Homo sapiens: one gene and its partner. The protein of the gene in region 1 purifies or fractionates together with the protein of each later gene. This does not show direct contact. Each region holds a gene or a part of one and is shown in the gene's direction. Other genes may lie near its edges. The genes, in order: ATP8A1 and DCBLD2.

Region 1 (3,829 bases):
AATACTATAATGCTAAAATATAATGACATTTATTTGATTATGTAAAATATGTGCTAAACGATGTATCCAGAAGTTGTTTTAGGAATTGTTTTTCTAAATGGCAACTCTAAAATGTTTGTAACTATGTAGAATAGTATGTTTTATTTACATAAAAGGTAACAAAAGGAATAAAAAGTAATTTAAGCTGTCCTTAAAGGAAAAATTTTAGGACGCTATTCCAGGTAAAAGATGACTAAGGTTTTTGTTCCTTTAAAAACCACTTATTATGCACCAGCTGTGTGCCAGCTAAATGGGTGGTGGGACAAAAGGCTGTGGTCGATGAAGGAGGTCCCAAAGGAAACATGGAGATGAGTATGGAGATGAGTTCAGTTTTACCTGAAGTGGCACTGTGTGAGAAGGTGTGTATGAGTATAGCGATACAGCATGTCATCAATATTTGAAAATCTCAAAGTAGGTGTCATTTTACTTAGTGTAATTCTGGAGATATAAGTGTATTAGATCTGATTATTTTAGGTTTTCTATCTTCAGTGCAGAATTCATGGTTTGTTTTTTCTGTCATTTCAAAAACAGAATTGAAGCATATACCTAATGTTACAGCTGTGGGAATGTTTGCAAAGGTCAGAGGACACTTTTGAAGTTAACGAAATGTTTGCTGCGTGGGTCTCTATTCACATGGTTTCATTGGAATGTCAATGACATGAAGGCCACCACTTTCCCCTTCATTCTTTACTTCTTAGCGAAAGGAGCCCAAACCTTCCAATGATTGTATTCTCCGGGTAGTAAGCTCCCTAAGGGCAGGGGGTTTTGTCTGGTTTGTCCACTGATATATTGCTCCCCATGAGGACATTGCCTGGCACATAGTAGGCATTGGTTAAATGAATGAATCTATGTCCTAAAGATGAAAATGCCTTATAATCCAATTTGTAAAATACTCAGAGCTAAATCTAGATGTACTAAATCTAGTACCCTCCTACTGAAACCTTAGCACCCCAAAGGAGCGTTTTTGTGAGATTTGTTCGCTGCTGTACCCTCTACACCTAGAGTTTTGTCTGCCACATAGCCACCACTCTATATTTGTTGAATGAATGGATAACTCTGAGCTTTGTTTTTAATGGAAGAGCTTAACTATGAGTCTTGATAGAAGTACTGCCTGCTTACTGGGAAAAACTCATGCTTCAGAAAGTCTTGCAGGAGAGAGTAAAATTCATCACAAACTATGCCATCCAAATATAATCACATTGTGATTATAAACTTTTATATACTTCATATAAATTTATATATTTACAATGTTAGAATTTTAGTATATGTCCTTCCCAACTATTTTCCAGAAAAGATATATTTGTTAGGAAGAATGAGGTAATCTGCATTATTTTTAATAATTTTATGGATATCTGTGCCAATATAGATTTGTGTAAATTTTGTCTACTGTCACTAGTTATATCCTTAGTGCCTGGAATAGTGCTTGACACTTGGTAGCAGCTCAGTAAATTTTTGTTGAATGAACAGATCAATTTTATTAATTTTATGACAGCTTAGCATTTTTATGTTAGTACAGAATAACTTACTAAAGAACCCTGTGGGTGGACATTTAGGTCATTTCAGTTTTTTAAACTCTTGAATAAGCATCTTTGTATCTTTTTGTACACCTTTCTGATGGTTTTGTTCAAAGTCCCTAGAAATGGGATTTCTGGGTCAAAAGTATATATCTTTTTATGACTTTTGATACATATTTGAAAATTGCTAGAAAGATTATACTGGTTTACACTCCCACTGAAAGTGAATGAGAGTGCCTGTTTATCCCTTTTGCAGCACTGTATAGCATTTTTCTTCCTCCTTATGGATATAGAATGTAAAAAGTAAGTCTTTAAGTTTACATTGCTTTATTAGGTTTAACATATTTTGGTAAATGTAGTGATTATTTTTTTCTGAATTGTTTATCAAGTTTTGTATTGAAGTTTAAGAACTTATATGTTAACGATAATACCTTTTTTCCTTATTCATAGTTTATCTTAACTTTGTAGTGCTTTAACATGTATGTAAATTAATTTTTATGAAGTATAATCTTTCCTTTTTTTAAATTTCTGCTTTAATGTCATATTTTTCAAGATAATTTTTCAATTATATTTTTCTTTTAGTACTTTTGGGTTTCATTTTAAACAGTTATATTAGTAATTCCTGTGTGATTTACTTTGTGGTGAAATGTGAGGCCTGGATCTAAGTTTTTCCTCAAATTATTTACCTGACATAATAACCATATATTTAATAATCCTTTCTTCCCACACTGATTTGAGGTGCTTCCGTATGTATATATTTGAGTTTTTTTCTGGAGTCAGTCTCTCTTTCCCTTCCCCCCACCCCACCCGCCGCCACCTCTCTTTATTTTGGTCCCTTTTAGCCCCTGGTATCAAATTCCTTTATTGCAACATAACAAAAAATATTCTCTTAGCTGTCCCATTTGCTTTGCTCTTTTCTCTAGGTTTTTCTGGGTTTTCTTTCCCCCACAGTTGTATTTTTCTACTAGAATTTATGAGTACATCATTGAATCAAGTTAAAAAACATGTTGGAATATTTATTGGAATTGCATTGTTTATAAATTTATATTAAGAGAATTGGCATCTTTCTTATATTGAGTCATGTATGCTTAGTTTCCCTCTTCAATTATTGCTACTTTGATATTGGTATCAGTCTGAATTCATTTCAGTTTTTCAGTTAATTTTTGTCTCTGTAGGTTTTAAAATTATATTGTATGTCTTAAAGCAAAGTATTTTTAAATGAGGTTTTAAATTAATAAGATTTGACCAGGTATCTGTTGGTTTTACTACTTTTTGAGCAAGAATGGTTCATTTCTATCTGCTGATGTATTGTGGACTCTGCTTCCAACTTACCACTTTTATTATTTCATGTAGTGGCCCTGACATGATAGCTGAGATATTACTCTTTTTTCTCCTTTTTGCTAGGAATAAGGTCAAATTTAGACCAACTAGATTTAGCTAATGGTTCCATGGAATCTACTTACAAATCAGCATTTATATCTCAGATCAGCACTAAAAGAAATAAAACGTGAGCCACAATCAAGCAGCTACATTTAAAATGTAAAAAGAGATGTTAAATGAATTTTAATACTATATATTTAATATTAAATAATACAAGTAATAGTGTATTTAATATATAAATACTAATATGTATTATAAATATAAATTGTCTTTGGCCCAATATATCCAAAATATTATTTCAATATTTTGTTATAAAAATTTATGAGTGGTAGTTTACATTTTTTGTGCTACGTTTTCTAAATCTGGTGGGCATTTTATAGTGCATCTCAATTTGTACTATTTCATGTGCTCAGTAGCTACATGTGACTAGTGGCCACTGTATTGAACAGCATAGTTGTAAATTATACCTCTAGCATATGCTTACTTGTTAGGATTTACTAGAATTTTTCAGAATATAAAATTTTGTGATGGAAACCCATAGCTCAAAGTAAGCTTGTTAGAAATACATATGTAGATCTTGAGGTTTAAGTCTTCAGCTCCCTTCTTAACAACAGAAGGCAGTCACGTGTGTATAAAACTTCACACATTATATGGGTGCTTAGATAATACTGCCTTTGACTTGGCAGTTTAGAGGTTTTATGTAAGTACATTGTGGCATCTTTTGTAGCCTGTTTTGTTTCCAATTTTTTAATCTCTTATAAAATATATTTGATAAATAAAACACCCTGCCATGTCTTCCTATTCATTTTTATTTAAATGTTAGCATGAGATGTGAAGTAGATAAAACTCTTAAGTAGTATTCTTTTATGTACAATATCACCATCACTTGTGCTAAA
Region 2 (3,829 bases), on another chromosome or scaffold:
ATGTAACCAAAGGTATGCAAACATGGAAATGAACGCCTAGTACATAGTATTGTTTTGTTCTTAACTGAAGTTTTCACGGGCATTTTTAAACCTTCAGTTTATTTTCTTCCAACTATAGTTTTTAAGTATAGCAAAAAAAAAAATTTATTTTCTTTCATAGGAAAAGACTGCATTGATCTAAGTTGTAGTCTCTGCTGCCATGTAGAATTGCTCTTTAAATATTTAGAGAAGGCCACTGTGTTGCAGGCCTCCTCTTGTGATTTATTGTTCCTTACAGCTAAACATGTTGACTCTCAGGCTTAGAAATACAATATTTTCTAGAAATAACTGAAATCATAGCAGGAAACAAACTTGTTTCCCTTGATAATATATTAATTTGATGGATAGGGAACTTGATGGCAAAAAGGGGAAAATAAAAACAGAACTTTTAGTAGAAACTAGTAATTGTTAAAAAATACTCATAGTTAACATATTCATAAAAAAAAACTTTGGTCTCTTTTTAAGTGTTTGCAATTATATTTTTTAAGATCATAAATAGAAATTTATTAGAATTTACTTTCAAGTTTTGTTATCAGTGATAAATAAGGTCTCAAAATACATAAAACATAGTAGTCTTACTAGTTGTTGAAAAACAAAATTTCAATTGAATTCAAAAAAGTGTCAGTGTCATAGTAGACTAAGTATCAGAGTTGTCACATAAAAAGCTTCCTTGTTTTCAGGAAAGTGCAGAGAGAGAAAGCCGTTCATCCAAAGTAATTTGTGCCACATAGAACTTCAGTCATTCTCATTTTTTGAAAGTTTGCCTGGATTCAGATAACTTTCTCTGACTTTCCCCATGTTGGTTCTTTCCCATCTTCTGAAGTATTTTCACAAAGATGAATTACTTTCTCATGCTGCAGGTACAGCTAGAGAGAATCAAGGGTTCTCAGAGGCAGGAGATCTCAGCATCTTTTAACTGCTTACCAGTTGTCAGAAGGCATGTACTAAGGCAGAATCCCAGACCACATGCCTGGATGGAGATCAGTCACTGAAAAGTGTTGCTCATCTTAAAATCTGATTGCATCTCAGACCCTCAAGGCTAAAAAGAGTCCTTAAATAATTTCCTTCCAGAATTAGGATCCCTGTATGCCCAAAAAGAATAACAAAGAATGAGTTGGTCTTCTCAGAGACCTCCTGTCTCTTTTTTAGGGGGATGGTAGTATATAAATTTATTTTTTGAACCTAAGAAGATGTTTTAAAGCCTCTGATTAAATCACACAGCATCCATCTAAACTTGATTATCTTCTCTTGTCTCACTAATCTTATGGAAAAAGCACATTTACCGTTGTGAATTCTGAGTGCTTTCTAGTCTAAGTCATTATTTCTGTTTATGGACTTCTCCATTTTTACAGCCAGGCTGAGAGTGATTTCATGGAAAAGATTATGTCATGGTCAGATTTGTGCCTCTGTAGTTTCCAGGTCCTCCCTCAGTGGGGCCCGTGGCACCAGCTGGCTGACCTTCTGAAAGGCTGCAGTAGCTCTTCTGTCTGTTCTCAACTGTAGCTATTTTACATATTCCCCTTATTTTCAAGCCCTTCACCCAGATATCTTCACCCACTCTCAGTTACCGCTCCAACTTCACAGAGAAAGTAGGGAGTTTCCTTCCAGTGAAACTCCCTTTTTGTGGAGCCTACAAACCTATCTGTATCCTCTGTTCACTGCAGTGAAAAGGGGGCTTCCTTATGTTGCCCAAGGCTGATTATATCACCTGTGCCCTGGTTCCCCTCGATCTACCTCTCAGGGACCCAATCTTACTGATTATCCTCTCCCCCTCCTGTATCTTCAGCCTCTTTCTCTCTTTTGGATACAGTTGTTTTAAGGAATAAAGAAGATGGTGCAGGTTAGACTCATTGCAGTGTCCGGCTCTGAGCCCCCAGTAAATATCAGCAGGTGCTGCTATTATCATCTTCATGGCAAGTAGGGGGTTGAGCGACAAAGGAAGAAACTAATATCCCAAGTGACCTTAGGCAGATCATTTTCTATATCTGGGCCCAGAATTCCTTATCTCTGGAGTGAAATTAGGGGATTAAATGATCCCTAAATCTCTCCCAGTTCCAGCATTATGCTGGCTTCTGACCTGGTCACACACACATTTCCAATTGACTTTCTTAACACCACATTGTTACCTTCCCATATATATATATATGAATGTTTTGCCATTATGATGTAACGTCATTTCAATTGCTGGATTATTTTCTCTTGTAAGGAGGATACCATGATTTATTCCCTCTCATTTTTGGGCATTTGGATTATTTCCAATTTTTCACTCTTACGCAGAAACAGGGAGAACATCTTTAAGGATGCATCTTTTTTTAGTTTCTGAGAATAAATTCTAGGAATGGAATTGCCAATAGATTTTTGTACATATTGCCCAAAAATGCCAATCAGTGAGATAGCATCAGTTTATATTTCCATTAAAAAATAACTGTTTCCTGGTAGCCTGTTCATCAATTAGTTGTTGTTTTAAATATTTGCCACTTTGATTAGCAAAAGTAGTATTTTGTTGTTTTAACTTTTTTTGTGTTGGTTGTTTAACTTGTATTTCTTTGATTACTAGTGAAGTTAACATATTTAATGGTTACTTGTATTTTTTAATGTATTACTAGTTAATCTCTGCTGATTTTTCTCTTAAATGTTTGGATTTGGCTTGTAATGCCCTACAATATAATAATTATTTAAAGTAACTCTTCTCATATGTAGAAAATATATTTTCCCAATTTTTCATTTGTCTTTCAATTTTATTTTAGTGATTTAAAAATTTAGGAAAATTTCACATCTCTACACAGATGGAATGAATAGTGTAACAAGCTTTTGTGTATCTGCAAAAGCTTCTACAGTTACCACCACATGCCCAGTCTTGACAAATAATGTTTATGGTATTTCCGTGAGGTAGAAAAATGTTGAAAGATGATGTGGTTAATTTTCCCTAGTGATTTCTGCCTTTGGTGTTAATATGGCTTTTGTTTGTCTGTTTTTGTCTTTGTAACTTCAGATGTAGCGCTGGCTGCAGTTCTTGTCCCTGTGCTGGTCATGGTCCTCACTACTCTCATTCTCATATTAGTGTGTGCTTGGCACTGGAGAAACAGGTTAGTACATAACTAGTTCACCTGAGTCCAAAACTACCAAATGTGAAGTAGAAGCTAAATATAGAAGATGAAAATGTTTACCTGTTTGAGAGTGAGAGTTAAGGTAATTATTAAAATGAAAATTTCATGCTTCTCCTTTATTCCCATTAAAAATAAATAAGTTCAATTCCACAATCAGTTACTAAGTACCTTTTTTGTATCAAGTTCTGCATTATACACTGGGATATGTACATTAATATGAACAATTTCTGACACATGATAGTTACATTTACTTAAAGAATGAGACACAATTCCTTTCTCTGAAGTGTTTAGCAGGGTTGACTAACAAGGAACTATATCATGTGGTTTGATGAGTTATGAACCATGAGAATTAACTGAAGTTTTTTCTTCGGGAAAGGGGACTCCTCAAGTTTGGCTTGCTTTGCCTTAAAGGAATTGTAGTTGGCTAGATAGAGGAAGGTAGATGTCTTTGTTTGGGATGCTGTAAGAAAATACCATAACCTGGGTGACATAAATAATAGAATTGATTTCTCACAGTTCTGGAGGCTGAGAAGTCCAAGATCAAAACACTGCAGATACTATGACTAGTGAGGGCCTGCCGTCTGGCTCATTCATCAACAGTGCCTTCTTGCCCGATCCTCTCATGGTGGAAGGGATAAACACGCTCTCTCAGGCCTTTCCTGTAAGGGCACCAATCCCATTCA

The links.
Region 2: the proteins of ATP8A1 (region 1) and DCBLD2 fractionate together in Homo sapiens (co-fractionation; one large-scale study listed by BioGRID). This does not show direct contact.

What each region holds. Positions count from the first base shown.
Region 1 is NC_000004.12:42,646,896-42,650,724, reverse strand, and holds part of ATP8A1 (phospholipid-transporting ATPase IA), read left to right. Parts: intron 1-3,829. UniProt on the Homo sapiens protein: Catalytic component of a P4-ATPase flippase complex which catalyzes the hydrolysis of ATP coupled to the transport of aminophospholipids from the outer to the inner leaflet of various membranes and ensures the maintenance of asymmetric distribution of phospholipids.
Region 2 is NC_000003.12:98,807,377-98,811,205, reverse strand, and holds part of DCBLD2 (discoidin, CUB and LCCL domain-containing protein 2 precursor), read left to right. Parts: coding exon 1-12; intron 13-3,031; coding exon 3,032-3,125; intron 3,126-3,829.